2 linked regions of the Homo sapiens genome follow. The protein of the gene in region 1 interacts with the protein of each later gene in a pairwise test. Each region holds a gene or a part of one and is shown in the gene's direction. Other genes may lie near its edges. The genes, in order: MIA3 and SEC24C.

Evidence for each region.
Region 2: the proteins of MIA3 (region 1) and SEC24C interact in a two-hybrid assay, tested with the Homo sapiens proteins (one study listed by BioGRID).

Annotation. Positions count from the first base shown.
Region 1 is NC_000001.11:222,649,067-222,665,692, forward strand, and holds part of MIA3 (transport and Golgi organization protein 1 homolog isoform 1 precursor), read left to right. Parts: intron 1-1,225; coding exon 1,226-1,314; intron 1,315-1,567; coding exon 1,568-1,645; intron 1,646-1,726; coding exon 1,727-1,837; intron 1,838-2,910; coding exon 2,911-2,982; intron 2,983-3,161; coding exon 3,162-3,266; intron 3,267-3,941; coding exon 3,942-4,064; intron 4,065-4,161; coding exon 4,162-4,273; intron 4,274-5,176; coding exon 5,177-5,232; intron 5,233-5,322; coding exon 5,323-5,413; intron 5,414-5,588; coding exon 5,589-5,727; intron 5,728-8,855; coding exon of another isoform or gene 8,856-8,910; exon of another isoform or gene 8,911-9,655; coding exon 9,656-9,757; intron 9,758-10,386; coding exon 10,387-10,447; intron 10,448-10,555; coding exon 10,556-10,591; intron 10,592-10,667; coding exon 10,668-10,735; intron 10,736-10,839; coding exon 10,840-10,940; intron 10,941-11,110; coding exon 11,111-11,248; intron 11,249-12,989; coding exon 12,990-13,058; intron 13,059-13,186; coding exon 13,187-13,266; intron 13,267-13,391; coding exon of another isoform or gene 13,392-13,463; and 5 more.
Region 2 is NC_000010.11:73,742,566-73,759,191, forward strand, and holds the start of SEC24C (protein transport protein Sec24C), read left to right. Parts: upstream 1-1,806; 5' UTR 1,807-1,872; exon of another isoform or gene 1,873-1,900; intron 1,901-2,615; exon of another isoform or gene 2,616-2,842; intron 2,843-4,064; exon of another isoform or gene 4,065-4,151; intron 4,152-4,239; 5' UTR 4,240-4,267; coding exon 4,268-4,439; intron 4,440-8,542; coding exon 8,543-8,678; intron 8,679-9,151; coding exon of another isoform or gene 9,152-9,158; intron 9,159-16,626. UniProt on the Homo sapiens protein: Component of the coat protein complex II (COPII) which promotes the formation of transport vesicles from the endoplasmic reticulum (ER).

The DNA of each region.
Region 1 (16,626 bases):
GGAGAAGATCATTAATTTGGGGCAGATTGACCTTAAATGTTGATGTAGTACCAATTTATTACATGTGACCAGTGTCCCTGTGCTAATGATTTAGTCAGTACATTAAATATTTATTTAAGTAGATAATTTGAGAACTAGAAATATAAATCAGCACGCCTGCATTTTCTGTTTCTCTTTGCAAATGACATATTTGAAGTGATGCCATTTTCTGAGAAGAAAGATGCTTCATGCAGGGAGGAATATTGAGCTATAACATTTTACTGTATTTCCCATCTTGGAAATAAATTAAACTCTCATTGAAATAAAGGTTCTTATTATATTTTTCTTAAATTCTAACCGTATTTTTACATCCTTATTCTTGTTAGCAGATTGCTTTTTGTATTAATCTGTTCTCACACTGCTATAAAGAAATACCCAAGGCCTGGTGTGGTGGCTCATGCCTGTAATCCCAACACTTTGGGAGGCCAAAGCGGAGGATTGCTTGAGCTCAGGAGTTCGAGACCAGCCTGGGCAACATGGAGAAACCCCATCTCTATAAAAAAAATATAAAAGTTAGCTGGGTGTGGTGGCACACACCTGTAGTCCCAGCTACTCAGGAGGCTGAGGCAGGAGGATTGCTTGAGCTTGGGAGGCGGACTTTGCAGTGAGCTGAGATTGCACCACTAAACTCCAGCCTGGACAACAGAGCAAGACCCTGTCTCAAAAAAAGAAATACCTGATACTGGGTAATTTATAAGAAGTTTAATTAGCTCATGTTTCTGCAGGCTATAGGAAGTATAGCGGCATCTGCTTCTGAGGAGGCCTCAGGGAGCTTTTACTCACAGCAGAAGGCAAAGCGAGAGCAGGCCATCTTACATGGTGGGAGCAGGAGCAAGAGAGAGTGAGCGGGGAGGTGCTGCACACTTTTAAAACCAGATTCCACAAGAACTCAGTCACCATCACAGAATAGCACCACAGGGATGGTGATAAACCACTCATGAGAAATCTACCCTTATGATCCAATCACCTTCCACCAGGCCCCACCTGAACACTGGGTACTATAATTTGTTATGAGATTTGATGGAGACACAGAACCAAACCATATCACTTTTTAAAACCATAATAGTTATGCTGAGAAGTTATTTTTTGTCATAGTGCAAGATAACATGTCTTTGCTGCTGATACATTGGGTAATTCAATTTCATTTAGTGATCATAATAACCTTATTATTTTTTTCTTTTTTCAGTCACGGAACAGCAAATTTCTGAGAAGTTGAAGACTATCATGAAAGAAAATACAGAACTTGTACAAAAATTGTCAAATTATGAACAGAAGGTATGATTATTCTTTGTTTTTTTTTTTTTTCATGGTCCCAGCTTGAATTATTTGTCACCTATCTTATAGTTCAGTTACTATGGTATTTTTAAATAGTATTTATTATTACATTAATTCCTATAAACCATCCAGATCTTAAGCAGTCATATGTGTAAAGTACTGTTTTCTTCTGTAAGAGGTCAGTCACTTGAAAATAAGTTCTGGTAGCACTATACTTTATATTTCTGGATTCTGAATGCTTTATTTTATATAGATCAAGGAATCAAAGAAACATGTTCAGGAAACCAGGAAACAAAATATGATTCTCTCTGATGAAGCAATTAAATATAAGGTAAAAACTTCTTTTGGGGATTACATTTTAAAACAAAAGTAAAAGTAATGAGTATAACTAACCTTAATATCTTTTTTGTAGGATAAAATCAAGACACTTGAAAAAAATCAGGAAATTCTGGATGACACAGCTAAAAATCTTCGTGTTATGCTAGAATCTGAGAGAGAACAGAATGTCAAGAATCAGGACTTGGTAAGAGTTTTGCTGCTAAGTATTACTAATAATTTGGGTTTTGAACTCTTTTGTAGATTGAGTTGAACTCTTTATTTTCCATGCTGTTATGTGAAGTAAGAGTGCGAGTCAGGGAAGTTGAACCTACTTCTGTCCATTTTTGTGGAATTTTAAGTACTTACACAAGAAATTATTCTTACAGGCCTAGGAAGTATTTTGGTTCTCAACCCTAGGTAATTGTCATATTGCTTGGCTCTGCCCTCCGAAACATGTGGAACAACTAAGAAACCCAGTTGAACAGTCCTTGTGTTTTGTTTTGTTTTGCAAAGTTTTTTTTTTTTTTTGCTATAAACATTTTATTTTATTAATAGAATAGTTTTAGAATGACCTAAAAGTTGCAAAGATAGTAGAGAGGGTTCCATAAATCCCACACCCTATTAATCTTGATGACCTCGTTGAGGTAGTATTGCCAGGTTTCTTCACTGTAAAATTACTTTTTTTTTTTTTAAACTTTTTGCATTATTGTACTCTTTGGAAGGAAGTTACTATCGCAGCCCACAGTTAAAAAGTGAAGGGTTATGCTCCATCCTCTTGAGGAGCCAGAATCTTCATAAATTATCTAGAATTCTATATGGGTGATCTGTCTATTCTCACTCCAATCCTACCATTTTTAATTTAGGCAAGAGCAATTGGTGTTTGACAAAACAATTGTCAAATTGTACTAAATTAAAGTACCTTGGGGATTATTTTTTTCTCTTGCCACAAGAAAAAAAAAAGTCACATTGATTTGAACTGGTTTACTTAAAAGTTTTTTCAGTTTCTTTTCTTTCACCTTTTAGTCTGGTCATCTACCACATTTTATTCTAACCAGGAAGGTTGTGTATGCTGTGAAATATTTATGCCTTTGATTATTTTCCCTTACCTCTTTAAGTTCTTGATTTTTCCCGAGGGCAAAACTGAAACACCTGCTTTTACCTGAAACATAGGGGATGGCTCTGGGACATACTTTGTTGATGTTTCTTCTTCTTAGTATGTATCCCAGTGTTTCTACTAAAATCCTAATATGCATTTTGTGTTCTGTTTTTACATGGCAGATATCAGAAAACAAGAAATCTATAGAGAAGTTAAAGGATGTTATTTCAATGAATGCCTCAGAATTTTCAGAGGTAAAGCTGACTGTAATTCCTGCAGGATATTAATACTATATCATAGTTTGATTGCAGAGCAAAAATTTGATATATGCTAAAATGTGCAAAAAATGAAAACTACATGATGTTGGGTTGGAAAAGTAACTTTTTCTGGTTTTCTTTGGAATTAATTCACTAATAGGAGTGTTTTGCATTAGGTTCAGATTGCACTTAATGAAGCTAAGCTTAGTGAAGAGAAGGTGAAGTCTGAATGCCATCGGGTTCAAGAAGAAAATGCTAGGCTTAAGAAGAAAAAAGAGCAGGTAAAGGAAAGTGCGTGTCCCAGGTCATGTAAAATAGAGAACTCAGTATCATACCTCATGAATGCCTTTACTCAGATCTATTTTTAGGGTAATATATGTGCAGGATTCTGTTCTTAGATATGCAAAGTTTAAACTATGCTTCCAAAATTGAGTGTAGGTATACATTCTCTATCTGTTCTGGATTTTCTGTTCTGTACAATTTATTTTGGCTATCAGAGTGTGTAGTCTTGTTTTGTCAGACACCAATTGCTATTAACTTGAGTAGCCTCGAGTGGGTAGTAGATTGGCTTTTTAGACCCAAGAGTTAGATATTTTATAACCCTCCTTTGAGTAGTTACTGCTTCACTAGCCAAGGGAAGGTTACATGATCAGGAGTGTGGACTTGGGAGATAGTAGGATGAGCCCTTCTGTTCCTTCTGGAAGTGAATTATTTGAATTGGCTACAATTTTCTGAAGGATGCAATAAACAAGATCAATTTCCTTGATAGCTCTGATGTTCTCACTACAGCTCTGAGGGTTGGGGCCACTGTCTCCTCCCACTTAACCAAGGTCTTAGCCCATAGTGATAGGCCAAGGAGAGGCATGGTTCCTTATTTACCTGTCTCATTCATGTGGTCCTAATGTCTCCAGTGCAAAAGCCCTAACCTGTGGGAATCATGTGTTTTAACTTTGCAGTTGCAGCAGGAAATCGAAGACTGGAGTAAATTACATGCTGAGCTCAGTGAGCAAATCAAATCATTTGAGAAGTCTCAGAAAGATTTGGAAGTAGCTCTTACTCACAAGGATGATAATATTAATGTAAGTGCGTTCATGAATACAAGCTTAATTCTTGTGAATTATCAAATCTGTTGAATTAAATGGAAAGACTCTTAATGCCCTTTTACTTCTTTTCTAGGCTTTGACTAACTGCATTACACAGTTGAATCTGTTAGAGTGTGAATCTGAATCTGAGGGTCAAAATAAAGGTGGAAATGATTCAGATGAATTAGCAAATGGAGAAGTGGGAGGTAAGATCAGCCTCAAGGAGGATGGACCCCTTTTGCCTTCCTGTCTTTAAGTGCACCAGTGCTACTTTTCAGCTGGCTGCATTTCCTCTTAAGCTTTCGAGGTGTAAATACATTGGATTTGAATGTGTGTCTGTTTGCATTGGGCAGAGGTGGATTGCTAGGGTGAGGTGTAGCAGTAAGCATGCAGTGAACACTGACTTTGTTTTCACATTGAGACTAGAAGGGTGCACGGGAGCTGCACTGGTCATGTCTTACACCTCTAAGTATTGGACACATACAGTAGTAGAAACTTGTTTTTCAATTTCATGGAGATAACATTTTAAAACTTGTCATCTCAGTAGCTGTGTGGTTTTAAGGCCCACAACTGGTTTTAAGAGTACTGAGGTGGTTGGAGGCATAAACTGACTAAGGCCATGAAAGAAAACCACAACTGGTTTTGAGAGTACTGAGGTGGTTGGATCCATAAACTAAGGCCATGAGAGTGGAGGCTATAGTGTTGCAGTGTTTACTGATGAGGAAAATGTTTCTAGATGCCCTCTCTCAAGTTGGATATTGCTTGTGTAGTGGGTGTTTTAAACCACACCTGGTAGTAGATTCTGGAGGAGAATAGGAGGGAATCTTTCTGAATAAGACACTAAGCCCAGATGGAAGAAAGAGCTTTATCTCACATGTTTCTTCTTGCTCAATAATGGCATGTATAACATGTTTATTGTACAAATGGGAATTCACTTTTTCAGTCTTAAGTTTGCAGTTCTCTTAAAAGTCAGTCTAATCCTTTTCTGTTTTTGTTTGTTCTTTAAATGTTTGAACATGACAATTGTTTAGTTTTGGGTAAATCAAGAAAATATAGATTTAAAAAGCAAGGGAAGAAAAAGCAATGAAAGAAAGCCTTTTGTTTTTTAGGTGACCGGAATGAGAAGATGAAAAATCAAATTAAGCAGATGATGGATGTCTCTCGGGTATAATCGTTTTTAGAGTCCCATAATTGCCTGTGAATACTTTTACTATGCCTCACTTTTATGAATACTTGTCTCTTCTGCAATTTTTAGACACAGACTGCAATATCGGTAGTTGAAGAGGATCTAAAGCTTTTACAGCTTAAGCTAAGAGCCTCCGTGTCCACTAAATGTAACCTGGAAGGTAGGTTGCTTCTTGAGAAGAAATTGCTATATATTGGAAAGATACAAAATTGCATTAGAAAGATAAAGAGCGGCTTCCTGCTTTCATACTTCTCATTTCTCTCAGCACCAGCCCCCAACCAAGTTCTCAAGTTCTTGTGCACACATATGGAACTCAAATGTTTTATCCTTTACAGACCAGGTAAAGAAATTGGAAGATGACCGCAACTCACTACAAGCTGCCAAAGCTGGACTGGAAGATGAATGCAAAACCTTGAGGCAGAAAGTGGAGATTCTGAATGAGCTCTATCAGCAGAAGGAGATGGCTTTGCAAAAGTAAGATTATCATCATTTACTGTTAACTGTATTGTCATGTCAGTAAATAAATGTGTACTAATATAGATAATGTTATCGTTTTTCAGGATTGTACTCTTTTGCATCTGTAATTAGTATAAATTTGTCTTTCTTTCTTTCTGCTTTGTTTCTCATAAGCTGCATTTTTCTTTCCTTTCTAACCAGTAGTCAAAAACTGTTGCCTGTAACTCACTTAAGGGGGAGCAGTGTACTGGTACTGACGGTCGCTGCTGTGGGAGTGCTTCTCTTTTGAAGATCTGGCCATGCCTTGTCTGTGGCTCCGCCACTTGTTTCACTTTCCTTTCTTTGTGGTCAATTATGTAATTTCCTTTAAACAGTCTGAGGGATTTGTATGACGTGTTTTAGTAGAATAAAAACTTCAAAAAAGGAAAATTTACTTATTGAAGGTACATTTAGTTTTGGACTTCACAGAGTAAAATATTCAAACTAAACATAATTGTGGCAAAGATATTAGGAGTTTTGAATGTAGAACTATTTGGTGTGTATATTTAGATAATAATCCTCTGAAATACATATCTCAAATTTCGAGCGAGGTACCTTTTGAGAGGTATATTTTTATAGTTCAAGTTTTTTGTCCACAAAAACATCTGAATTCTCTAAAAATAGGTTATCTGTGGCAGTTGCTATTTGTGTTTGCTCTTATGTTTTACTCTTTGGTGTATATGGCAGTGTGTGAGGAGGCCTCTCTTGCTAAGCAAATTTAACTTTTTTAAATGCTTAGACTGCTACTGCTGTATGCCATTAAATATTGAAACCATACCATTAACTTTTTCTCTAATTCTTTGCTCACCAGGCAGCCAGTTTAGATTTTCCAGGTTTTGTTCAGGCCAGCTCTAAATAAATGCCTGTCCTGCTTCAGAGAGACATTCCTCATTTCATTACTTTTTAAAAAAGAGCACTTCTCTGCCTCCAATAGTAATGTGAATTACGTAAATGGCAACTGTTTTTCTTCGTGATACAGTTAACCCATTGATGTGGCAGTGTTTTATTCAACTTCCCCAAAATTCATTCAGTCTCCATGTGTGGTTTGTACTCTACTGTCCACCCCTAAAGTCACTGTGTTAATTCAGGCCCTTGTCATCTTTTATGCCAGTCCCCTAGCTAATCACGTATCTCCAGACTTTCTTTCCCTTTTTTTTTTTTTTTTTTTTTTTTGAGACAGAGTCTCACTCTGCCGCCCAGGCTGGAGTGCAGTGGCGTGGTCTCAGCTTACTGCAAGCTCCGCCTCCCAGGTTCATGCCATTCTCCTGCCTCAGTCTCCCGAGTAGCTGGGACTACAGGCGCCCGCCACCATGCCCGGCTAATTTTTTTTGTATTTTTAGTAGAGATGGGGTTTCACCTGTGTTAGCCAGGATGGTCTCAATCTCCTGACCTCGTGATCCACCCGCCTCGGCCTCCCAAAGTGCTGGGATTACAGGTGTGAGCCACCGCGCCCGGCCAAAGAATATACTTTAATGCAGGTTCAGTGAGTTTACTTTTGTATGAAAATGTCTTTAGTTTGACTCCATTTTAAAAGGATCTTTCTGCTGGTTCTGGAATTTCGATAGTTGTTTAGTATCAGCACTTTAAAGATAACCAGTTATCCTCTAGTTTTAAAGTTTCTTTGAGGAATCTATTATCATTCTTATTTTCTCTTTTCTCTTTTTTCAAATGTTTTATGCCTGCCCTAGCTGCCTTTCGTCATTTTCTTTTTGGTTTTTCAGCAGTTTTCTTGGGAGGTGCCTACATGTAGGGTTTTGTCATCACCCTTCCACCCTACCCTCCTGCTTTTTCTTTTGCATTTATACTGCTTGAGGTTATAAACATCTCTTGAGTTTGGAGCCTCTTTTTTCACATATTAATTCTATCTTATTCTCACTTGTCCTGAGAATCCAATTCAACATACTAGGATCTCCCACCCCTACCCCTCGCCCAATGCCTCCTACATTCTGAATATGCTTCATTCTGGATGTTTTCTTCTGACCTATCTTCCAATGTGCTAAAAATCTCACCTCAGTTGTCTAATCTGCTAAAATCATTGAGTTCTTTTTGGTTTCACTATTTTTCACTTTTATAGTTTCTAATCCTCTGCTGAAATGTGTAATCTTGACTTGTACTTCCTTCAATTTGTAAGGCACAATTGCTTTAAAATCTATGTGGTAATCCTATTATGTGGATCCCTTATGAGTGTGTTTCTCTGGTCTTCTAGATTGTGATTACATTGTCTTGTCTTGTGGAATGTCTGGTTGGTTTTGATGGAGTGGTGAACATTGTTTTTGAAAATTGTAGGGGAAATTTGAGGTCTAAGATGATGTTATCATCCTACATAAAAGATATGAGATTACCTCTAGCAGGTGGTCATTACTTTATTCCAGTTAGCAATTAAAATCATTCAAAAATGGCTTAGTTCCTTTAAAGGACATTGTATTTATTGCCTGTTCAATACTCCAAGTGTGCAGCTCTTTTCTGGTCTCAACCCAAAGCCTAGGGCTTTTACTAGGGGTCCTTCTCATTGGCAGCCCTGAACTCCCTCCGCTTCTTGTTTCTCTCAACCCAGGGATCTGTTGAAAGTTCTTTTCAACCTTCTTACATATCTGCATTGTCTTCAATGCATGGATGAACCTGGGGGGAAATGGCTTAAAATGCCGGGCTTACTTATAATTCTGTGTTTTTTCCTACTGGATTTTCTTCACTGCCTTATTAGCTTTCTGATGCCTTCGAGCACATTCTTTCTATTTTTGTCCATATGTTCTTATTTTCAGTGTTTGCAGACTAACTCATCCATTATTGGAAACAAAATTCTCTTGAATCCTTCTTCAAGACTTGTTTTTTCCACATCCCTTCCTAAGCCAGAGTCAGAGAGGGATTGTTCTGTTCTTATATGCACCTTTTACACATTCAGCTGTGAGCTCCATTAGTGCAGAGGTGGTACTTACCATAGCCATACCTTTATCTTAGTCTCTTACAAGGTAATTAGTATAACCACTCATAAAATATTTGCTGAAGTATTTATTGAATGAGCAGTTGTAAAAGAATACATAAACTTTTTTCTCTTTGGTGTTAATAACCCTTTTTACTATAGCTCCTCTATTTTTGTTTCCAATTTATAGAAAATTTGCAAGTATCTTTTGCATCAGAACTATGAGTAAAGAAGTACAAGGGTAACTACAAGTAGCACTTTTAAACCATTAAATGTTGCTGCCTTTACAATCTGTGTTATAGTTGGCTAACCTCTTGAGCTTGAAGGTTATCAGGTTAAAACCAATTTCCAGTACATAGCACCCTGATTACAGGACAGTTTGGATTCTTTTTCTGTTCAACAGACATTGCCAGTACTCGGATTTGTCTCGCTGCTTTATCATGATTCCATTGAAATAGGTAGGGGAGCTCCATATCTGAAGTGTGAAAATGTTCTGGGGTTAATTGTACAGTTAAGGACATGTTCTAAAAAGCTCTTTCATTGGCTGTCTTTATCATGGTACCAGCCTTGGATTGAGAAACAGCCCATAAGAAAATTAATTAGTGGTCTTTCCATGGTTAGAAATAAGAGAATTATCTCCTGCATCATCCTAATAAGCTTAACTGTGTTAGGTTGATCAGTCCTGGCTTTCTACATTGAAGAAAAGTGAGCATCATTTCAACCCAACAGTCTTTGACACATAGTGTTTTTTCACATTTGTTTCATTTACTAGTGAGGAGAGAATTATGAGACGTTAGAAAATGCAGGTGATGTATCAACAGGCCACAGTTGGATTTTTATCCTAAAGGACAGTTTTATTTCCTTCCTGTGACTTTGTATAATCTATGCATTTTTAAGAATAGGATAGGAAGTGAGATTTTATTGGAGTATTCAGACAGAATGCCAGGAGGAAAAGAGAAACACTTTCATTGACAACCAGTTTTATCTTAGGAAACTGAGTCAAGAAGAGTATGAACGGCAAGAAAGAGAGCACAGGCTGTCAGCTGCAGATGAAAAGGCAGTTTCGGCTGCAGAGGAAGTAAAAACTTACAAGTAAGTTCACCTCCTAAAGAGGGTATCAGTGGCTAATGAAACTAGTGTTGGCTTTTTTTATTAGCACAAAAGCATAAATAAGTGGTTAGAGGACATGAATACATCAATTCACACAAAAGAAAAACTAAATTTTAAGTTAACAAATGGAAAAATATTAACAAATACCCAGTGCTGGCAAAACTGTAAGGGAACTTGATTCGTGCAAACAGTTCTGGGGGTTGGAGGGGGTGGGAGCAGTTTGTTATATGATGTATCAAAAGCCATTAAAGTGATTTTGCCATTTGATAGACCCAGTAGTCCTAACTTTGGGAAAATTTTTATGATGTAATTAAAGGATGAAAAAAGGTTTATAGTGGAAGATATTAATAATAGGATTATTTGAGAACATATTTAGGAACAGTTAAAGGAATTGTAATATATCAACTCAATCTCCAGCTGTTAAAGGAAATTATGTATCATTAGTTTTCATCATATTGTACTTTTGTTATAACCAACCATGTAAAATATGCTTTATATTTCTGGATAAGCTCTATTAGGGTACAGTTGTTAGGGTAACGGTTAACATAGTCAGATTGTTTGGGTTTTTATTCAGTTGTGCTTTAAATGATAAAGCCAAGTGTAATTCTTAGGCGGAGAATTGAAGAAATGGAGGATGAATTACAGAAGACAGAGCGGTCATTTAAAAACCAGGTAATAATTCTAGTGCCCTACTATATAGTGCCCGGAATTCTTTGATAACTAATAGAGGCTATTATAATGAATCTGTATGCATATTTTGTGATGTATTATCTTTTTCAGATCGCTACCCATGAGAAGAAAGCTCATGAAAACTGGGTAAGATTTCTTTTTTTCTTTCCCTTATTTTGTGCATAGTCTCCCACAACTGAATTTGGATATTTTTCTTCAATAGCTCAAAGCTCGTGCTGCAGAAAGAGCTATAGCTGAAGAGAAAAGGGAAGCTGCCAATTTGAGACACAAGTATGTGGATTTTGATGGCTATATTTTCAGCGCGTGTTCTCTTAAGGAATTGGTTTCTATTTCATATTTAACTCTTTCTTAAATATTCTTTCTCTATATTCAAGATTATTAGAATTAACACAAAAGATGGCAATGCTGCAAGAAGAACCTGTGATTGTAAAACCAATGCCAGGAAAACCAAATACACAAAACCCTCCACGGAGAGGTAAGGGAGCTACCTTGTAAAGGGCAACAATCTGTTTTTTGATGTAAAATGTATATAAGTGACTTTTTGTTTCTGTGTGTAATGGTTATGGTACCCTAGGAATAATCCCAAGAACTGAATAAAGAAAAAAAGGCTGTCTTAAAATGCTAACAAGATGCTGTCATCTTTAGGTCCTCTGAGCCAGAATGGCTCTTTTGGCCCATCCCCTGTGAGTGGTGGAGAATGCTCCCCTCCATTGACAGTGGAGCCACCCGTGAGACCTCTCTCTGCTACTCTCAATCGAAGAGATATGCCTAGAAGTGAATTTGGTGAGCATTCACATGTTTCCTTGCAATACTCTTTTGGGTGGCTTTTTCCCTTTTATTTGAGAATTCTAATGCAAACACTTTAGAATTCGGGTCTGTCCAGTATAGAAAAGAAAATTTCTTAATTTGTCTTGGTGGATTCAACTGCAAGTATTCAACTGCAAGATTTGCTTTAGAACAGAAGGCATTTATTATTTTCCTTTATTGTTTTGTTTCTCTTTAATTTTTTACTCTGAAGTGTAAGCCCTTATCTTTCAATTAAAGTTCTGTGGGATTCCTCTCCCAAATACAGCTGACCCTTGAACAACACAAGTTTGGTCTGTGCAGGTCCACTTCTATGCAGATTTTTTTCAAAAAATATTTTGGGAAATTTTTTGGAGCTTTGCAATAATTTGAAAGAACTTGCAGATGAACCACATAGCCTAGAAATATAAAAAAATTAAGAAAAATTTATGTATGTCGTGAATGCATAAAATATATGTAGATACTAGTTTGTGTTATAAACTATTGGAAAATATACAAAGATCTATTTTAAAAAGTTAAAATTTATCAAAACTTGCACAAGCACAGATGTACATGACACCATTCACAATTGGGAAAAAGTAAACACATGTAAAGATGCAGTTTTAAATCATAAATGCATAAGATTAGCTGTAGTACATACTGTAGTACTACAATAATTTCATAACCACCTCCTGTTGCTATTGCAGTGAGCTCAAGTGTTGTGAGTATCCGCTTAAAACACCGTGTGATGTTAATCTGCATGTGGGCAGTTCATCTCTCCAGTAAATTGTGTATCACAGTAAACATAATCTCTCATGGTTCTTGTGTATTTTTCATGTTTAGTGCAATAACATAAACCTTGAATAACACCATGGGACCCATATAAAATGCCACTAGTGATGCTGGAAGTATTCTCAAGAAGCAAAGTCATGACACTACTAGAAAAAGTTGAATTGCTTTGATATATACCATAGTTTGGAGTGTGCAGCAGCAGTCATTTCAGTCAGACGATTCATCTTGTAAACAGACCATGTACACGTACAGTACAAATACAATACAGTGTTATAAATACATTTCCTCTTCCTTATGATTTCAATAACATTTTCTTTAGCTTACTTTATTAAAGAATACAGTATACAATATATATACAGAATATGTGTTAACTGTTTATGTTATTGGTAAGGCTTCTGGTCAATAGTAGGCTATTTACTAGTAGGTAGGTTTTGGGGAGTCAAAAGTTACACGTGGATTTTTGACTGCGCAGGGGATCAGCACACCTAACCCCTGCATTGTTCGAGTCAACTGTATTATAAAAGTAGCCTTAATAACTTTATCGTTTATGCGGCATACATGTTTCCACTTGTCATTACTATATAGTATGAAACGCTGTTGAGTCTATTTTGAATCCTAAATATGTCTATAATACTCAGTAAGATACGGAAGTCAGATTACATATACACTGAACAAAAATCACCATGTAGAATACTGTACATGTAAGTCTGTAGCTTGAAGTATAGAACCAGAGCCATTAATGTGCAGGGTTTATTGTTCTTTCAGTGCAAGGCAGTTCTTATTTTAATTCTTTAAGTCCGTGCATAAATTGTAAGTGATTTCCCTTCATAAATATTGGGAGACCCATTTTTAATGTTGCTTTCCAGATAAGACTTGAACCCTGATCTGTCCACAATTTATTATTTCTTCCAAAAAATACATATAAGGACTCTGTTATTTCTTTCTCAAGGATCAGTGGACGGGCCTCTACCTCATCCTCGATGGTCAGCTGAGGCATCTGGGAAACCCTCTCCTTCTGGTAAGGGAGCAAGAGTGTTCAAAGAGTCTAAAACCATGCAGGAAGTGGGGAGAGGATTTTTTTTTTAATCCTCCTCACAGAGTACACAAGTCAGAATAAGTCTACATCAGTTCTCTGGTCTTTAACAGATCCAGGATCTGGTACAGCTACCATGATGAACAGCAGCTCAAGAGGCTCTTCCCCTACCAGGGTACTCGATGAAGGCAAGGTAAATGCACCCATTTTGAATAATTAGTTATTTCAGGAACATTTAGCTCTTCCTACAACTCTCTCTTTGCCTCATCTCCTATTTGTGTGTTCTATCTGTACTATCTCATTTATTTTTTAAAAAAGCAAACTGTTCTCCAAGAGCCTGAAGTCCCCTCAGTTCCCAGCATTACATCTTTGGCTGAGCGTCCAGTAGCAGTAAGTACTTAGAAGTGTGGACTGAACTGGGCTATAAGTTGCATGGCAATATTGATCTTACTTTTATCCTTGACTTGGGAGTGTTGCTGAAATCTGACGGATTCATTGGCCTTTTCTCCTCTCTCCTGTTTGGTTAGACATTTAACCTGTGTAGAGCATCTGCTGTAACTGTAATTAACTTAAACAAAAGTGAAAAGTCCCCACTCTTGTGTGTCTCAGTGTTTAATGCTCTTAGGCAAAGTAAATTCATTGTAAATTGTGTAATTCATTATTATGTCTTCATTTGGAAGTGTGCTATTTAAGAATACCTACAGTTGTATACTAGGCAAACCCTATTTTGAATGATCTGAAATTACAGATTGATAACAGAAGAATGTTTGCTGGAAGTGAAATACTGAATAGTGGAAGTCTATAATTACCCGTTGAGCCAGTTCCCAGCAGTGTCCTTAAACAGTGTCCACATAAGTGTATTCTCTTGTAACTTGTATAGCTGTTATGGCTGGTAAGTCCTCTGATCATACCTCACTGTGATTCTCGACATTGAAATTAAAATAATTTTAATGATTGAGAGTTTCCAACCCACTTTCCCATAGGAAGTGATTAATCAGTATCTCATAGTAGACAGTATTACTAGTGAATGAAGATGAATAGAGCTGTGCCTGTATAATTTGTGTACATAACATTGTTTCTCTTGGAAAATACTTCCAAGTTCCAGCACAGGACTCCAGGAATACACATTTCTTGAGAAATGTTTTTATCCAAGAGCAGCTTGGATAAGACCCGAGACCCCTTTGAAGTAGGAGACTTCGAAGAGTGTAGAGACTACTTTGTTAGAAAGGAGAAGCAGAGGTGGAAAGAACGTGGCCTTGGAGTCAAACCTGGCATGGAATTCCAGCCAGCCTCTTACATGCTGTGTGACCATCAGCAAATCTAATACTCTCTGCGCCTGTGTTCCTGCATATTTAGAACAAGATGGTCCTATTACAGATTTAGAGATGTCAGAATTTGTGTTAATATATGTAGGGCCTACAGAAGGTACTCTGAATAATCGCTGTTACATGGTAGAGAATGGATTTTTCATTCCCTTTCATTCTCTGCATTCTTAATATGGAAATTACTCTGATAGGAGGGATGTGCAGAGGGAGTGACTGCCTTAGAAATAGATGTATGAATGGCGTAACTTCTATCATTAGTCAGGAATGACCTCCATTTATAACCTGTGCGTTCCCTTCCATTTGCAGATGTAAGCAATAATATGATACAGCAAGTGTTCACTCCTGTGGCATACTTTTAACCTTTCTAAGCTTGTCAGTGGGAACAAATGAGAGGGGTAGAGTTTTTTGCACTAATTCTGCTCTTTGGACAAGTGCCTGACATCTGCTTCATTGGGTTTTAGTTTTTACTGGTGTTGGTGCTTTTGTCTGTCATACCATAGTATTTCAAAACTTCAATTGTTTCTACTCTGCAGGTTAATATGGCTCCAAAAGGGCCCCCTCCTTTCCCAGGAGTCCCTCTCATGAGCACCCCCATGGGAGGCCCTGTACCACCACCCATTCGATATGGACCACCACCTCAGCTCTGCGGACCTTTTGGGCCTCGGCCACTTCCTCCACCCTTTGGTAAGATGATCTGAACAGTAGTAATTGACTTGTAAAGCACATTCATCTTCTCCATCTATCCCTTGCTAAAACAACTGCAATTGCGGGGCTTTGCAATGCAGCAGTGAAGCTGATTGAGTACACCGTAACTTTTCCCCAAGTTTCTTCAGACACAAAGGGTGCTACATAATCTCCTGTGATTAGATGGGCAATAGTTGTCTCTAATAGAACAAGGAAAGGGGCTATTTATAAAAAGCCAGAAATATTCATCACATTGAACATCTGTGGCTGTGTACTAGGCTCTGCAATGGATAGCAAGGTAGATAAAATACATCCCCTAACTAAGATGTCCTGTAGGTCACAAATATACACATTCTACAACATAAAGCTTCTAATCACCCATAATGGAAGCATAAGCAGTAGGTCACAGAATATTAAGGAAAGACAAAACCCTCAACCCTCACCTTGGGAATACAAAGAAGGGAGATATGAAAGAGAAGGTAGAATTTAACAGCTATCTAATGAATGCTGCTGAATTTAATTAGATGGAGCTGGAAAGCCTTTTCCAGCAGGGCAAGCACCTTAATTTTTATGGCATTTATTAGGTACATCTTGAGCTACTGCATAAATTTTTAACTGATACACAGTAGTTAATGGAATTTATCAAAATTTTTATTGCAATGAAGCCATATTTAGTCTGTCTTCTTGGTATGGTATATAGTACTTCCAAGTACAAATCTATCTCTCTTTTTCAGATAAAGATGGCAGGCCAGGCACAGTGGCTCACGCCTGTAATCCCAGCACTTTATGAATCCCAGCATTCATTAGACGAGGCTGAGGCAGGTGGATCCCTTGAGCCTAGGAGTTTGAGACCAGCCTGGGCAACATGGTGAAACCCCCATCTCTACAAAAAATCCAAAAATTAGCTGGGAGTGGTGGCGTGCACCTGTAGTCCCAGCTACTGGGGAGTCTGAGGTGGGAGGATTGATTGAGTCCGGGAGATTGAGGCTGCAGTGAGCCATGATCACTCATTACACTCCAGCCCATGTGACAGGCAAGACCCTGCCGCCAAAAAAAAAAAAAAAAAAAAAAAAGGATGACAGACTATATTAACATACCTGGCATTATCTTAATTTAAATACGTTCCTAGGAATTTACTGGAAATAATTTTTGTTTTCCAGGCCCTGGTATGCGTCCACCACTAGGCTTAAGAGAATTTGCACCAGGCGTTCCACCAGGAAGACGGGACCTGCCTCTCCACCCTCGGGGATTTTTACCTGGACACGCACCATTTAGACCTTTAGGTTCACTTGGCCCAAGAGAGTACTTTATTCCTGGTACCCGATTACCACCCCCAACCCATGGTCCCCAGGAATACCCACCACCACCTGCTGTAAGAGACTTACTGCCGTCAGGCTCTAGAGATGAGCCTCCACCTGCCTCTCAGAGCACTAGCCAGGACTGTTCACAGGCTTTAAAACAGAGCCCATAAAACTATGACCTCTGAGGTTTCATTGGAAAGAAAGTGTACTGTGCATTATCCATTACAGTAAAGGATTTCATTG
Region 2 (16,626 bases), on another chromosome or scaffold:
CTTGAAACCAGGAGGCGGAAGTTGCAGTGAGCCAAGATTGGGCCACTGCACTCCGGCCTGGAGACAGAGCAAGACTGTCACAAAACAAAACAGAGGACAAGAACAATCTGCTTGTTTAGTAAAGCATGCTCAATGCCTAATATATAGTTTCCAGCACAGCCTAAAGTGCAAATTTTTCAGTGAATAAACCACTCTGTGCCTCAGAATAACTGATATTTACTGTCAATAATATGAGAACAAACACTTTTGTTCACTGCTCTATTTCCAGACCCAAGAACATGGCTTGGCACACAATGTCAGCGCTCAGTGGGTTCACCCTGCCTGCTGCCTTGACAAAGCTGATTTATCAAGACCAGGGAATTGCAATGGAGAAAGAGTAATTCACGCAGAGCCAGCTGTGTGGGAGACCAGAGTTTTATTATTACACAAATTAGTCTCCCTGAGCATTTGAGGATCAGAGTTCTTAAAGATAATTTGGCGAGTAGGAGCTTGGGAAGCGGGGAGTGCTGATTGGTCAGGTTGAAGACGGAATCACAGGGAGTCAAAGTGAGGTTTTCTTGCTGTTTTCTGTTCCTGGGTGGAATGGCAGAACTGATTGAGCCAGGTTACTGGTCTAGGTAGTCAGCTGATCCAATGAGTGCAGGGTCTGCAAAACATCTCAAGCACTAATCTTAGGTTTTACAATAGTTATGTTATTCCTAAAAGCAATTTGGGGAGGTTCAGACTCTTGGAGCGAGAGGCTGCATGTCCCCTAAACTGTAATTTGTAATCTTGTAGCTAATTTGTTAGTCCTGTAAAGACAGACTGGTCCCCAGGCAAGAAGGGGGTCTTTTCGGGAAGGGGCTATTATCAATTTTGTTTCAAACCATAAACTGAATTCCTCCCCAAAGTTAGTTCCACCTACACCCAGGAATGAATAAGGACAGCTTAAAGGTTAGAAGCAAGATGGAGTCGGTTAAGTCTGATTTCTTCCACTATCATAATTTCCTCAGTTGTAATTTTGCAAAGGCAGTTTCAACAGCAGTGCTCGAAAAATTATGAAATCAACAAATAGTACTGAAAAGTTCAAATGAAGTCATATATGAAAAAGAAATCCTAGCACTGTTAGCTATAATTACTTAGCCATTAAATGGGGTACTAATAATTACTGCAGGAACTATCTTTTCCAACAGAGCGCAGAGATCTTTTGGCTCTGATAAAGCTCTGCACCTAAACAAAGGCGCTGTATAAAAATGGTTAATAACAATTGACCTTTACTGAGTGCTTACTATGATGCCAAGCGGCCTATGTGGCCTAATTTCATCCTCTGGGCATTATTATTTCCATTTTACAAGCTGTAGAGCCAGACCTCAGACCCCCACATGCAGGTTGACAACAGTTGGTGCCCTTTACCACCACCACACGTTCCGCAAATCTCATAACCAGCAAACGCCATGGGTGAGAGCAACCTAGCGGACGGAAATCAACGGGGTCAGGGGTCACCAGGAAGTGACTACAAGACTCTAGCTCAGAGGTCACTAATACGTCACAGGCAGAGTGAAGGGGCATTATTAAAGATAGTTTGACAAATTCTTTTTAATCTCATTTCTGTTGGTGAGGCCATAAAGTGACTGGAACATCTGAAAAAAAATGTCAGGAGGGAAATACATACGACTCAGCAGAGGCGCACAGGCGGCGGCCATGATGGGAAGATGAAAGAGGCGCATGCGCGGCATCCGGGTCCCCGAAATGCAGACGTGGCAGAAGAAGTGGCCCGGCCCTAAAGCGTGGAGGAGGAACTTCCGGGGGTGACGGGACGGCCCCCTCGGAACCGGAAGTGGAGCCTGGGAGCCTTGACGTTAGGAACGAAGTCTAACCTGGATCTGGAGCCGGGTGAGGAGTGGCATCGGGAGGTTGGCGGGTAGGAAAGCAAAGGAGAGGTCAGGGTATTACTGGCCAGATTGGGGTCCGGTTTCAGAAAGAAGGGAGGAGCCTGGGGGCGGGGCCTGGGTAGAGACCCTCACCTCACGCATCCACCATCCAGGAGCAGGTCCTAGACCATCCCTTCGTCTCCCGGCCCAGATTCCGGCTCCTGCTTCCTGCCCCGAGCCTGTTAAAAGGTGCAAGACGTTTGGTCTCTGTGCTTAACAGAGCAGCCCCCTCTCTTAACGTGGCCCTAGAAGCCGACTTGGCTTCTCGGTTTTGATCCTCGGCTCTCCGAGGCTCCATGGCTTGACTACTTTCAGAGTTCTAGGAAGCTTGCCCCGCCCCCTTGGGTTGTCACCCTCGACTATCCACCCAGAATGGAGTCGAGACTTCAGTCTGACTCCAAGCTCTTGAATGTGTTTGAGGGGATTATTTTCTGGAGAAGAAGCTCCTTTCTTTACCCCTCCCCCCGGCTTTGGAAACATAAAGGGAGAGGACATATTTTAAACTTAGTGTCAGTGACCTACCTCTGTAAGGTTTAGGGTTTGGAAGAACAGCTATTGAGATAACTTTGAGTTTAAAGAGTTTTAGACCAGGATCAGCTCCTTTTCTATAGTCAAGGTGGCCCTTCTAGCAAAGGGGGAGAGGTCCATTGTTCCCTTTGCAGCAACTCTGAGTGCTCCTGCTTTCTGGGCCCCTTCTGTCTACAGGATAATTGGAATGATACAGCTGTTGAAAGTAGATGTGATGAGATAGTTTTCTTGGAAGGACCCTGTTTAGAAAAGGCCCTCTAATTCATCCCTGTGTTGATGAGCAAGATTGTAATAATTTTGATGGTGGCTGAGATTCATAACAATCGTAAGGGGAGCAGAAACAGGAGAGTTGGAGAAGTGCATTGGAATTTAGAATATTCATAGTCTTCTGCTTGAGGGATGAGGTGAATGATTTTTTTCCATGAAATCTAACTCTAACTTTGCCCCTGATTCTTGAACTGTTTCCTCAGATTATGTGAAGAAGTTTTGGTGCCTGTTCTGCACTTGGTTTTAATCTGTTACCTTGCTAGAGTTTTCAGGTGTCCTTTATTTTTTATTTTTTTGAAAGGGCGTCTTGCTCTATTGCTCAGGCTGGAGTGCAGTGGCACGATCTCGGCTTATTGCAATCTCCGCCTCCCGGGTTCAAGCGATTTCTCCTGCCTCAGCCTCCCAAGTAGCTGGGATTACAGGCGTGTGCCACCATGCCCGGCTAGTTTTTGTATTTTTAGTAGAGACTGGGTTTCACCGTGTTGGCCAGGCTGGTCATGAACTCCTGACCTCAAGTGATCTGCCCGACTTGGCCTTCCAAAGTGCTGGGATTACAGGCATGAGCCACTGTGCCTGGCCAACTTTTATTGATTTTAATGCTTCGGTTTTGGCCGGGCGTGGTGGCTCACACCTGTGATCCCAGCACTTTGGGAGGCCAAGGTGGGTGGATCACGAGGTCAGGAGATCGAGACCAGCCTGGCTAACAGGGTGAAAACCTGTCTCTACTAAAAATACAAAAACTAGCTGGGTGTGGTGGCACGCGCCTGTAATCCCAGCTACTCGGGAGGCTGAGGCAGGAGAATCGTTTGAACCCAGGAGGTGAAGGTTGCAGTGAGCCGAGATCGCGCCACTGCACTCCAGCCTGGCAACAGAGTGAGACTCCGTCTCAAAAAAAAAAAAAAAAAAAAAAAACCTTCAGTTTTAAGGTCCATACACTCTTTTGGTGGAAAGACTTGGGTTGGAGTATCATTTGTATTATGGCAGTTTAGCTAAAGAATGTCATTTCTGTAACTCAGCCTAAATTTTGTCATTGAGGGGGAAGGATTTTAGCAGATCTGTTTTAGATTTTTAGCCTGATTGATTTTAAATCAATTGTTCAGCACACTAGAGGGTACTCGATGTTTGCTGAATGAATGGATGCTAGAGTGAATGAATGGAAAGTGGGAACATTGTTTCTTTCACCTGTAACATCAAGGTAGTTCATCAGCCACAAGACTGTGTGACTAGACACTAGAAATCATACCACTGGGGAATGGAGGCTGCTGCTCCATTTCAGTGGATCTGTCTGAAGTTGAAATTTATACTATTTAGACAGTGACAAAGGGTGGATGGTCAGAATAACAAAATCCTTGCTTTTAGGAGATAATCTGAATGCTGGCTGGGGCAGAAAATTACTAAGATCCTGTGGAAGTGTGAGGATTATTAAACTGATCACTGTCTGATAAGGTCAATTTCTTTTTATCTCTACTTCCTGCCCTGAATAGTTGCTCTCTTTAGAAAGTTCATTTTGACTAATTTCTCCTCTCTCTCACAGGTGAGATCAAATTGGGAATGCTTTCATAATGAACGTCAACCAGTCAGTTCCACCTGTGCCACCATTTGGGCAGCCCCAGCCCATCTACCCAGGGTATCATCAGTCCAGCTATGGTGGGCAATCAGGGTCCACAGCCCCCGCCATTCCCTATGGAGCCTACAATGGCCCAGTACCAGGCTATCAGCAAACACCTCCCCAAGGTATGTTTCTGTTTCTGTTTCCTTTGAGCTAGGGAGGGAAATCAGCAGAGTCTTCAGGTTGGGTTGTATTGCTCTAGCTAAGCTACCTGAGAAGTTTGGATAACTGGGATTGAGGAACATAAATCTGGCCCTGTGTAGCTGAGAGCCCCGTGGGCGCCCTTCCCTTCCCTTTTTTTATTATTATTTTAATTTTTTTTTGAGACAGTTTTGCTCTGTCACTCATGCTGGATTACAGTGGCATGATCTCAACTCATTGCAACCTCTGCCTCCTGGGCTTAAGCACTTCTCCTGCCTCAGCCTCCCCAGTAGCTGGGATTACAGGCATGCACCACCACGTCCAGCTAATTTTTGTATTTTTTTAATTTATTTTGAGATAGAGTCTCTCTCTGTCGCCCAGGCTGGAGTGCAGTGGCACCCTCTTGGCTGCAACCTCCACCTTCCAGGTTCAAGCAGTTCTCTGCCTCAGCCTCCTGAGTAGCTAGGATTACAGGCATCCACCACCACACCAGCTAATTTTTTTGTCTTTTTAGTAGAGATGGGGGTTTCACCATCTTGGCCAGGCTGGTCTTGAACTCCTGACCTTGTGATCTGCCCGCCTCAGCCTCCCAAAGTGCTGGGATTATAGGCGTGAGCTACCGTGCCTGGCCTGTATTTTTTTTTTTTTTTTTTTTTGAGACAGAGTTTTACTCTTGTTGCCCAGGCTGTAGTGCAGTGGCACGATCTCGGCTCACCACAACCTCCATCTCCTGGGTTCAAGTGATTCTCCTGCCTCAGCCTCCCGAATAACTGGGATTACAGGCATGCACCACCATACCCTGCTAATTTTGTATCTTTAGTAGAGATGGGGTTTCTCCATGTTGGTCAGGCTGGTCTTGAACTCCCAACCTCAAGTGATCCACCCACCTCGGACTCCCAAAATGCTGAGATTACAGGCGTGAGCCACCACACCTGGCCACTGTTTGTATTTTTAGTAGAGATGGGGTTTTACCAGTGGCCAGGAAGGTCTTGAAGAACTGCTGACCTCAAATGATCCACCAGCCTTGGCCTCCCAAAATGCTGGGATTACAGGCTTCAGCCACCACGCCCGGCCCCTTCCCTGTTTTTTTATTTTATTTTACTTATTTTATTATTTATTTATTTATTTATTTTTTGAGACAGTCTCGCTCTGTTGCCCAGGCTGGAGTGCAGTGGCACAATCTCGGCTCACTGCAACCTCCGCCTCCCAGATTCAAGCAATTCTCCTGCCTCAGCCTCCAGAGTAGCTGTGATTACAGGCTCCCGCCACCATGCCCGGCATTTTTTGTATTTTTAGTAGAGACAGTGTTACACCATGTTGGCCAGGCTGGTCTCGAACTCCTGACCTCAAATGATTCACCCATCTCGGCTTCCCAAAGTGCTGACATTACAGGCATGAGCCACCACCTCTGGCCTTATTTTTAATATTTTTTGAGATGGAATTTTGCTCTTGTTACCCAGGCTGGAGTGCAATGGCACAATCTCAGCTTACTGTAACCTCCGCCTCCCAGGTTCAAGTGATTCTCCTGCCTCAGCCTCCCAAGTAGCTGGGATTACAGGCATGTGCCACCACACCCGGCTAATGTTTTGTATTTTTATTAGAGATGGGGTTTCACCATGTTGGCCAGGCTGGTCTCAAACTCCTGGCCTCAGGTGATCCACCCGCCTCAGCCTCCCAAATGCTGGGATTACAGGTGTGAGCCACCGTACCTGGCCTTATTTTTTTTCTTTTTTATTTTTGAGCTGGAGTTTGGCTCTTGTTACCCAGGCTGGAGTGCAATGGCACAATCTCAGCTCACTGCAACCTCTGCCTCCCAGGTTCAAGTGATTCTCGTGCCTCAGCCTCCTGAGTAGCTGGGATACAGGCACCCACCACCACACCTGGCTAATTTTTTGTATTTTTAGTAGAGATGGGATTTTGCCATGTTGGCCAGGCTGGTCTCGAACTCCTGACCTCAGGTGATCCACTTGCCTCGGCCTCTCAAAGTGCTAGGATTACAAACGTAAGCCACCACGCCCAGCTGTCTTCCCTGTTTTTAGATAAGGTACTGTGTTTCTGCCTTAAGCCATCTAGTGGGAACACATCTCCCAGGTTCACTGACTGTTCACTTCCTGTGGGTATCACCTTGTGCAGCCTTACCTGGTCACATTGTTCAGAGCTAAATGGAAGGGTTGTGGTCCACACCCCTCTAGATCCTGTGACCAGGACCGAATATTTCCTGTTGACTTGTAGTCTCCTTGAAATAATTTATTCGTCATATATGTTGAGAAAGCCTCTTGTTGGACTGATGATTCTTATGTATGAATGACCCTGGGACAGTGTAGTTTATGGGGGTGAAAAGTGTGATATTTGTGTGCCTGACTTTTGGTGCGTCTCATGTCTTCTGATATCCATCCTTTTCCTTTGCTTGAGTTTCCTCTGCTTCTTAGATGCTCTGTAATGTCATGGTAATAAGATAATACTAATCTGATGCTGTTCTAGGTTCAGTGTTTGGCTTTTAACCTTACCTTTTCTTTTTCTTTTTTTTTTTTTTTCTTTTTGGAGACAGAGTCTTACTCTGTCACCCAGGCTGGAGTGCAGTGGCACGATCTTGGCTCATTGTAACCTCTGTCTCCCGGGTTCAAGCAGTTCTCCTGTCTCAGCCTCCCGAATAGCTGGGATTACAGGCACATGCCACCACGCCCGGCTAATTTTTATATTTTTAGTAGAGACAGGGTTTCACCATGTTGGCCAGGCTGGTCTCGAACTCCTGACTTCGTGATCCACCTGCCTTGGCCTCCCAAAGTGCTGGGATTACAGGCGTGAGCCACCACGTCCAGCCTTACCTTACTTTCTCAAGAAGAGCAGCTAGTACTCTACCGATTCTCCAGAGGGGCTTTTTGGAAATAGTTAACAGTAGATCTTTGCTTAGGCTAGCCGATGATTTAGGGTATGCCAAACTCTATGCTTTCATAAAGAGATATGGAAAAAAGAAGGCATCAAGGAGGTACTGGTAAGATTTGGGAAATAATGAAGTATGATGATTTTAACTGTGGGGAAAAAATATTGTGATGAGATTAGGCCCCAGGTCTTTGGAAGAACCTTAATTCTAAGCTGAGACTTTGGCTGGACAGAGTCCACCTCTGCTTTGTCAAGTGCTCGAGTTTGGCATTCTCTCATGAGAAAGCTTTGTTAGAGGAAAACATATCTGATTCTGTCATGGTTGGTGAGCAAGTTTAGGCTAATCATGTTCCTGTAGGCAGGTTCTATAATGTCTAATCTCTACTGAGGGCAGAGCAAAAGAAAAGCATTCTTTGAACAGAGGTCATCCACATTTCAAAAGTGATGTGCCAAGTAACTAATTGCTTTCTCCCTGAACTTCATATGTGAAGAATGGCTAAGGGTAGTGTAAGTAGCTTTGGTGGTGGTTCTAAGGAATAGGAAGGATGGAGTACAGCTTTTGTGAGGACATAGGTGGCAATGCTGATGGGAGGACAGGCCAGCTGTCCTTACTGAACTGTTGGGCAGAAACAAGGTCTCCGATCTATAGGAACACGTTCCTGAATCGTGCTGTTTCATGTTTTCACACTTAGAAGTGGATGAAAGGATATAGTTAGTGTAAGCAGAATGAATGAAGAAGAAGGTGGCAGAATAATCTCCCCAAGAGATGCCTTTCTTTGCAGCCTAGTTCCGTATATTACTTGGTCATCTTCTGAGTCTCCTTTTTCATATATGCTCCAAGTTTCTGAGTTCTGGAGTAAGATCTTTTCCTTAAAAGGGTTGGCTTGTTGTCTAGGGTAAGAATATCAGGCAGTCTTGGATTGACTGAGAGTATGGTGATCAAAGGAAGGCCCTACATTCTTGTGCCTCTGGCTACAGCTTCACCCCTAGTATGCTTGTCTAGGGGAGTGTAGGCCCCTTGTTGGGAATCTGTGTTTAGAATACTGCTGTAGCTACAGTTGTATGCTGGTAGTGTCCTTTTCACTGCCTAAACTGTGGTATTGGGCCAGTGAAGGTCTGAGTTTATTGATCCTTGCTTTGCATTCCTGGCTCAGGGTGGAGGAGAAAGTTATTTCCCAATCACTTAGTTTCTGTCCTTTACCCTCAGGTATGTCAAGAGCCCCACCTTCCTCGGGGGCACCTCCAGCCTCAACAGCACAGGCTCCTTGTGGCCAGGCTGCATATGGCCAGTTTGGCCAAGGAGATGTACAGAATGGGCCAAGCTCCACTGTTCAGATGCAAAGGTAGGTACTTGGTCAATCTAAAATTGGTCTGATGAGGCTGAGTGCAGTGGCTCATGCCTGTAATCCCAGCACTTTGGGAGGCTGAGGTGGGTGGATCACCTGAGGTCAGGAGTTTGAGACCAGCCTGGCCAACATGGCAAAACCCCATCTCTTTTCTCAAATAAAAAATTAGCCAGGTGTGGTGGTGTGCACTTGAAATCCCAGACTTGGGAGGCTGAGGCAGAAGAATCATGAGGCAGAGGTTGCCGTGAGCCGAGATCGTGCCATTGCACTCCAGCCTGGGCGATAGAGTGAGACTCCGTCTCATAAATAAATAAATAAATAAATAAATAAAATTGATCTGATGAAAGTAGAAAGGTTAGGAATGTATGGGGGTTTGTGTTTTGTTTTGTTTTTTTTCTCTCCTTTGCCTTTCTTGTAGATCACTTTTTCTCTTCCCTCTACCCTTTTGTACTTTGTCTTCTTTTTTCCAGGTTACAGGTACTGCTGACGTCCAGCCCTGTGGATTATTGACCCATCTTAGTACCTGGGTTCCTTTGCATATTCTTCATTTTCTGTGAACTTGAGTTTCTTGCTTTACTAGACATACATCTTCAATAATGGTTGCAGTCCTGTTGAGACTACCCTAAGGGAGAAATGGGAAGAGGAAACTTCAGGATTATTTGCATCTCTTTTGACTTGCCCCTTTCCTCTAGAACAGGCACTTAGTAGGACTGATTGGTTAAGTTTGGGCATGGCCAGTTATGAACTGAAAGATACTAAAAGGGAAACCACATAAATGGTGAAAACTTCAGTGGTACAGTGACCCAATAAACCCATCTTAGCATGAAAGTCCATTAAAGGAGGGCAGTCATCTCTATTAGAGTGCTTTTTAAAATTTTTTAATTTTTTTTTTTGAGACAGGGTCTCACTCCGTGGCCCAAGCTAGAGTGCAGTGGCAGGATCACAACTCCCTGGAGCCTGGATGTCTCAGGCTCAGGTGACCCTCCCACCTCAGTTTCCCAGGTAGCTGGGACTACAGGCATGCGCCACCACACCCAGCTAATTTTTTGTATTTTTAGTAGAGATGGGGTTTCGCTGTGTTGCCCAGGCTGATCTCAAAACTCCTGAGCTCAAGCAATCTGCCCACCTTGGCCTCCCAAAGTGCTAGGATTACAGGAGTGAGCCACTGCACCTGGTCAGGAGTGTTGTTTGTGTTTGGTAAATAAAGAGTAAAATATAACTGTGGGAAAGGGGTATGATAATAGAAAAGTCACTTTCTGACACTTTAACTGGGTGTCCAGAACACACATTTTAAGCATTGAATGTAAGCCTGGGTAAGTCAAACAAGTGGGGTACATAGAAGATAACAAGTACACAAATGTACATAAAGTTATAAAACAGGGTGAGGATATAGTGAGGGGGTAGGGAGCTGTTTTAAATACATTGGTCCGTGCTGGGTGCAGTGGCTGACTCCTTTAATACCAGCACTTGGGGAGGCTGAGGTGGGAGGATTGCTTGAGCTCACAAGTTGAAGGCTGCAGTGAGCCATGATTGTACTGCTGCACTCCAGTCTAGGTGACAAAGCAAGACCCTGTCACAAAAAAACAAAACAAAACAAAAAACCCATACGAAACAAGCATATGCCTTAGTAAATTATTATATAGCAAACTCCTTTGTAACTACAACTACGACCCAGATGAAGAAATAGAACTTTGCCACTCACCCCAAAAGCCTTTTCCATGTGCCCCAATTCAAACATTATTCTCTCCCTCCCCTCATAAATAACAACTATCCTGCATTATCCTGACTCTTACAGTAATTACTTTCTTTTTCTTTTTTTTTGAGACAGAGTCCTGCCCTGTTGCCCATGCTAGAATGCAGTGGTGTGATCTCGGTTCACTACACTCTCCAGCTCCTGGGTTCAGGCGATTCTCCAGCCTCAGCCTCCCGAGTAGCTGGGATTGCAGGCGCCTGCCATCAGGCATGGCTAATTTTTTTATATTTTTAGTAGAGACAGGGTTTCGCCATGTTGGACAGGCTGGTCTCGAACTCCTGACCTCAAGTGATCCACCCGCCTCAGCCTTCCAAAGTGCTGGGATTACAGGTGTGAGCCACCACGCCCAGCTGACTTTCTTGTGGTTTTTTAAAAATAGTTTACACTTGGCTGGGTGAGGTGGCTCATGCCTATAATCCCAGCACTTTGGGAGGCCAAGGTGAGAAGATTGCTTCAGCCCAGATTTTTGAGACCAGCCTGTGCAATATAGGGAGACCCCAATCTCTACAAAAAATAAAATGTTAGCTGGGCATGGTGGCAAGCTTGTTGTCCTAGCTACTTTGGGAGGCTGAAGTGGAGGTATCGTTTGGGCCCAAAAGGTCGAGGCTACACTGAGTGTGATCTCGCCACTGCACTCCAGAGCTTGAGAAACAGCGAGACTGTGTCTCACAAAGAAAAAGTTTACACTCAAATGTACAACCCCACGTACCACAATTTAGTTTTACCCACAGGAAAAACACTTGGTGTGTCTTAAGTCTATAAGCTCCACCTCTGTCTTCTTTTTCTTAGTATTTATCTGTTGAAGAAAACAGTTAACCCAAAGAATTTCCCACAGTTTGGACTCTTTACATAACATTTACATCACACTTGTCCAACTTGTGGCCCACAGTCTGCGTGCCCCAGGACGGCTTTGAATGTGGTCCAACACAAATTCATAAACTTCCTTAAAACATTATGAGGTTTTTTTTTTTAAGTTCATTACCTGTCATTAGTGTAGTGTTAGTGTATTTTATGTGTGGCCCAAGACACTTCTTCCAGTATAGCCCAGGGAAGCCAAAAGATTGGACACCCCTGATTTACATTGTATTAGGTATTATAAGTAATCTAGAGATGATTTAAAGTACATGGGAGGAGGCTGGGTGTGGTGGCTTATACCTGTAATTCCAGCACTTTGGGAGGCCAAGGTGGGTGGATCACCTGAGGTAAGGAGTTTGAGACCAGCCTGGCTAACATGGTGAAACCCCATCTCTACTAAAAATACAAAAATTAGCTGGGTGTGGTGGCGGGCACCTATAATCTCAGCTACTTGGGAGGCTGAGGCAGGAGAATCGCTTGAACCCAGGAGGCAGAGGTTGCAGTGAGCCAAGATTGTGCCACTGCACTCCATCCTGGGCGACAGAGTGAGACTTCGTCTCAGGAAAAAAAAAGTATATGGGAGGTTATATGCAAATATGATGCCGTATAACCCACATCCAATTCTATTGATTCCACCTTCAAGATGTATCCCAAATCTCACTACAGTCATTCCTCAGTATCCATGGGGGAATGGTTCCAGGACCTCCCCTGACCAACAGATACCAAAATCCACAAAGGCTCAAGTCCCTCATATAAACTCTATTCAAGTAGAGATGTTAGGTAGGCAGGTGCATATACAAATCTGCAGCTCAAGACTGATGCTAGGACTGGAGATAAAAATTTGGGAGTCCTCAGTCTATAGATATTTAAAGCCGTGGGACTAGATGAAATCATTTAAAAAGTGAGTATTGAGATTAAAGAATGGAATTGAGGACTGAGACTTGGAGCTTAGCAACATTTAAAAGTAAAGAGGAGCCGCCATTAAAAGACAATGAGGGGCCAGGTGCAGTGCCTCACTCCTGTAATCCCAGCACTTTGGGAGGCTGAGGCAGGCAGATTGCTTGAGCTCAGGAGTTCGAGACAAGCCTGGGCAACATGGTGAAACCCTGTCTCTACCAAAATACTAAAATTAGCCGGGTGTGGTGGCACATGCCTGTGGTCCCAGCTTCTTGGGAGGCTGAGGTGGGAGGATGGCTTGAAACCAAGAGGCGGAGGTTGCAGTGAGCCGAAATCGCACCGCTGCACTCCAACCTGAATGACAGAGTAAGACCCCATCTCAAACAAACAAAAAAAAAACAAAAGACAATGAGAAAGAGCAGTAGTGAGGTGGGAGATAAGCCGGGAGAGTGTGGTGTCCTGAAGTCAGGTGAAGAGAGTATTTCAAGAAGGTGAGAGAGTAATCAGTTGTGTCAGATGCTGCCAAATTGTAAGATGAAGATGGAGAATTGACCATTGAATTTGGCAAGGTTGGCGTCATTGGTAAAGGCAGTTTCAGTGTAGAGATAAAGAAAACTACCCAGTTGGAGTGAGTCAGAGTTTCAGGCCAGGCGCGGTGGCTCATGCCTGTAATTCCAGCACTTTGGGAGGCCGAGGCGGGTGGATTACAAGGTCAGGAGATCGAGACCATCCTGGCTAACACGGTGAAACCCCGTCTCTACTAAAAATACAAAAAATTAGCTGGGCGCGGTGGCAGGCTCCTATAGTCACAGCTACTTGGGGGGCTGAGGCAGGAGAATGGCGTGAACCCAGGAGGCAGAGCTTGCAGTGAGCCGAGATCTTGCCACTGCACTCCAGCCTGGGCGACAGACAGCGAGACTCCGTCTCAGGAAAAAAAAAAAGTTTCAACCGGGTGGTAGATTGACATAATCTGAAAACCCTCTGCTACCAAAGTCTAGAAAGGAGAGAGAAAATAGAAACAAAAAAAATTTTTAAGTGCAAAGTTAAGCTTGAAAGAAAATGTGAAATTCTTAAGTTTTAGAGACCAAGTGAGGACTGAAAATCTTTTTTTTTTTTTAAATACAGAGTCTTGCTCTGTCGCCCAGGCTGGAGTGCAGTGGCACGATCTCTGCTCACTGCAACCTCTACCTCCCAGGTTCAAGCGATTCCCCTGCCTCAGCCTCCCAAGTAGCTGGGACTACAGATGTGGGCCACCATGCCCGGCTAATTTTTGTATTTTTAGTAGAGATGAGGTTTCACCGTGTTGGCCAGGCTGGTCTCAAACTCCTCGCCTCAGGTGAACCGCCCACCTTGGCCTCCCAAAGTGGTGGGATTACAGGCATGGGCCACTGTGCCTGGCCATCAAGTGAGGACTGAAAATCAGAGTGGTAAATTGACTCTGGAGCTGCCTGTAGATTGGGTGGATTCATCATCTTGAGAAGCCAGGGCCTTAAATTTAAGCAGGTACTGGGGAAGGCAGATGAGTCCTTGGGCTTTCCTGAGAGTAGTTTTGGAACTGAGACATTGTTTATAAAGTCTGGACCTGGGCTGCACCTTCATTGAACAAGCTGACTAGGGGAAAAAAGTCTGCACGCTGGAAAGGGGAGATAAGGAGTGCTGTTTCTCTCAGGCTGGCTGTGGATGGGTGAAAAAAAAAGTTCTTGGGACTGCAAATGGACATGACATCTTTTTGGAATGATGAAAATGTTTTAAAATTTGATTCTGGTGATGGTTGCATAACTAAATTTACTAAAAATCATTGAATTGTTCACTTGAAGTGAATTTAATGGTATGGAAATTACATCTCAGTAATATTTTTTTTTTTTTGAGACAGAGTTTTGGTCTTATTGCCCAGGTTGGAGTGCAATAGCACGATCTCAGCTCACTGCAGCCTCTGCCTCCTGGGTTCAAGTGATTCTCCTGCCTCAGCCTCCCAAGTAGCTGGGATTCCAGGCATGACCACCATGCCAGGCTAATTTTTTGTATTTTTAGTAGAGACAGGGTTTCACCATGTTGGCCAGGCTGGTCTTGAACTGACCTCAAGTGATTCACCTGTGTTGGCCTCCCAAAGTTCTGGGATTACAGGTGTGAGTCACTGTTCCTGGCCAATTTTTTTTTTTTTTTTTTTTTTTTTTTTTGAGATGAAGTCTCGCTCTGTCACCCAGGCTGGAGTGAAGTGGTGTGACCTTGGCTCACTGCAACCTCCACCTCCCAGGTTCAAGTGAATCTCCTGTCTGAACCTCTTGAGTAGCTGGGATTACAGGTGTGCACTACCACGCCTGGGCTAATTTTTGTATTTTTTTAGTAGAGATGGAGTTTCACCATGTTGGTCAGGCTGGTCTTGAACTCCTGACCTCAAATGATCCATCTGTCTCGGCCTCCCAAAGTACTGGGATTACAGGCATGAGCCACTGCACCTGGCCTAATTTTTTTTTTTTTTAAATTAGAGGCCAGGTGCAGTGGCTCATGCCTGTAGTAATCTCAACACCTTGGGAGGCTGAGACAGGAGGATCACTTGAGGCCAGAAGTTTTAGACCAGCCTGGGCAACATAGGGAGATCCTGTCGCTATAAAAAAAAAAAAATAGCTGAGCATTGTTGGTGTGCCTGGGAAGCAGAGGTGGAGGCAGGAGGATTGCTAGAGCCCTGGAGGTTGAGGCTACAGTGAGCCATGATGGCTTCGCTGCACTGTGGCCTGGGTGCCAGAGTGAGACCCTGTCTCAAAAACTAAAAAAAAAAAAAAATCAATCTAGGGTGACACTGTCATTATTGGAGTACCTTCTGGAAACAAATGTAGAACAACCACACCTCAGTCCGGGCTGGAAGGGATTATCGGAGAAAGGCACTTTGATTAGAGTTGGGCCAGGCACAGTGCTCATGTTTGTAATCCCAGCACTTTGTGAAGCCGGGGTAGGAGTTCAAGACTATCCTGGGCAGCATAGCAAGACCCTGTCTCTACAAAAAATAAAAAAAATTAGCTAGGTGTGGTGGTGTGTGCCTGTGGTCTCAGATACTTGGGAGGGGAGGCTTAGGGGGAGGATTGCTTGAGCCCAGGAGGTCAAGGCTGCAGTGAGCCACAGATAGTGAGTGCCATTGTACTCCAGCCTGGGTGACAGAGCGAGACCCTGTCTCAAAAAAAAAAAAAAAAAAAAAAAAAAAACGTAAGGCTGGGCACGGTGGCTCACGCCTGTAATCCCAGCACTTTGGGAGGTTGAGGCGGGCGAATCACGAGGTCAGGAGTTCCGAGACCAGCCCGGCCAACATAGTGAAACCCCGTCTCTACTAAAAATACAAAAATTAGCCAGGCATGATGGTGGGCACCTGTAGTCCCAGCTACTCGGGAGGCTAAGGCAGGAGAATTGCTTGAACCCAGGAGGTGGAGGTTGTGATGGGCCAAGATCGCACCACTGCACTCCAGCCTGGGCGACAGAGTGAGACTCTGTCTCAAAAGAAAAGAAAAGAAAAAAAAAAGTAGAGACAGAGTATAGACCTATTCTTTTGTAATGTTTAGCTAAAAGGGGAGCAAAAGTTTGAGGGGGCTGTGAGGTAATTTGGTTGGATTTTTAAAAAGTTTTTTGAGATATAATTCATATACTGTGCAATTCGTCTGTTTAAAGTGTTTTTGTATATTTAGTGGTTTTTAATATATTGACAGATATGTGCTGTCACAATTTAGTATATTGACAGATATCACTACAGTCAGTTTTAGAACATTTTCATCATCTGAAGAAGAAATACTGCATTCTTTAACTACCCCTGTTTAGCTATTCCCCCATTCCCCTATTCTTCCAACCTTAAGCAACTCCTGATCTACTTTCTGTCTCTAAAGATTTCCCTATTCTGGACTTTTCATTAGAATAGAATCATATACTATGTGATATTTTATAACTGACTTCTTTAATTTAGCATAATATTTTCAAAGTTCAACTATGTTGTAGTGTATATTAGTACTCCATTCCTTTTTGTGGTTAAGTGGTTTTTCATTGTGTAGCTACATGCCACATTTTGTTTATCCATTCTTCTGCTGATAGACATTTGGGATGTTTCCACTATAGTTGGTTTTTGTGTGTGTGTGTGTGTGTGTGAGATGTTTGTATGTTTTTGTGCTGATGGGAATAATCAGAGAGGGAGACACTGAATGGAAAGTATATTGGAAAGACACTGTGGTAGACTGAGGCGGGCAGATTCGTTGAGCTCAGGAGTTTGAGACCAGCCTAGGCAACATGGCGAGACTCCGTATCTATAAAAAATGCGAAAACTAGCCACGCATGGTGGCGTGTGACTTTCGTTTCAGCTACTTGAGAGGCTGAGGTGGGAAGATCAGCTGAGCCTGGAAAGTTGAGGCTGCAATGAGCTGTGATCACACCACTGCACTTCAGCCTGGGTGGCAGAGTGAGACCCTG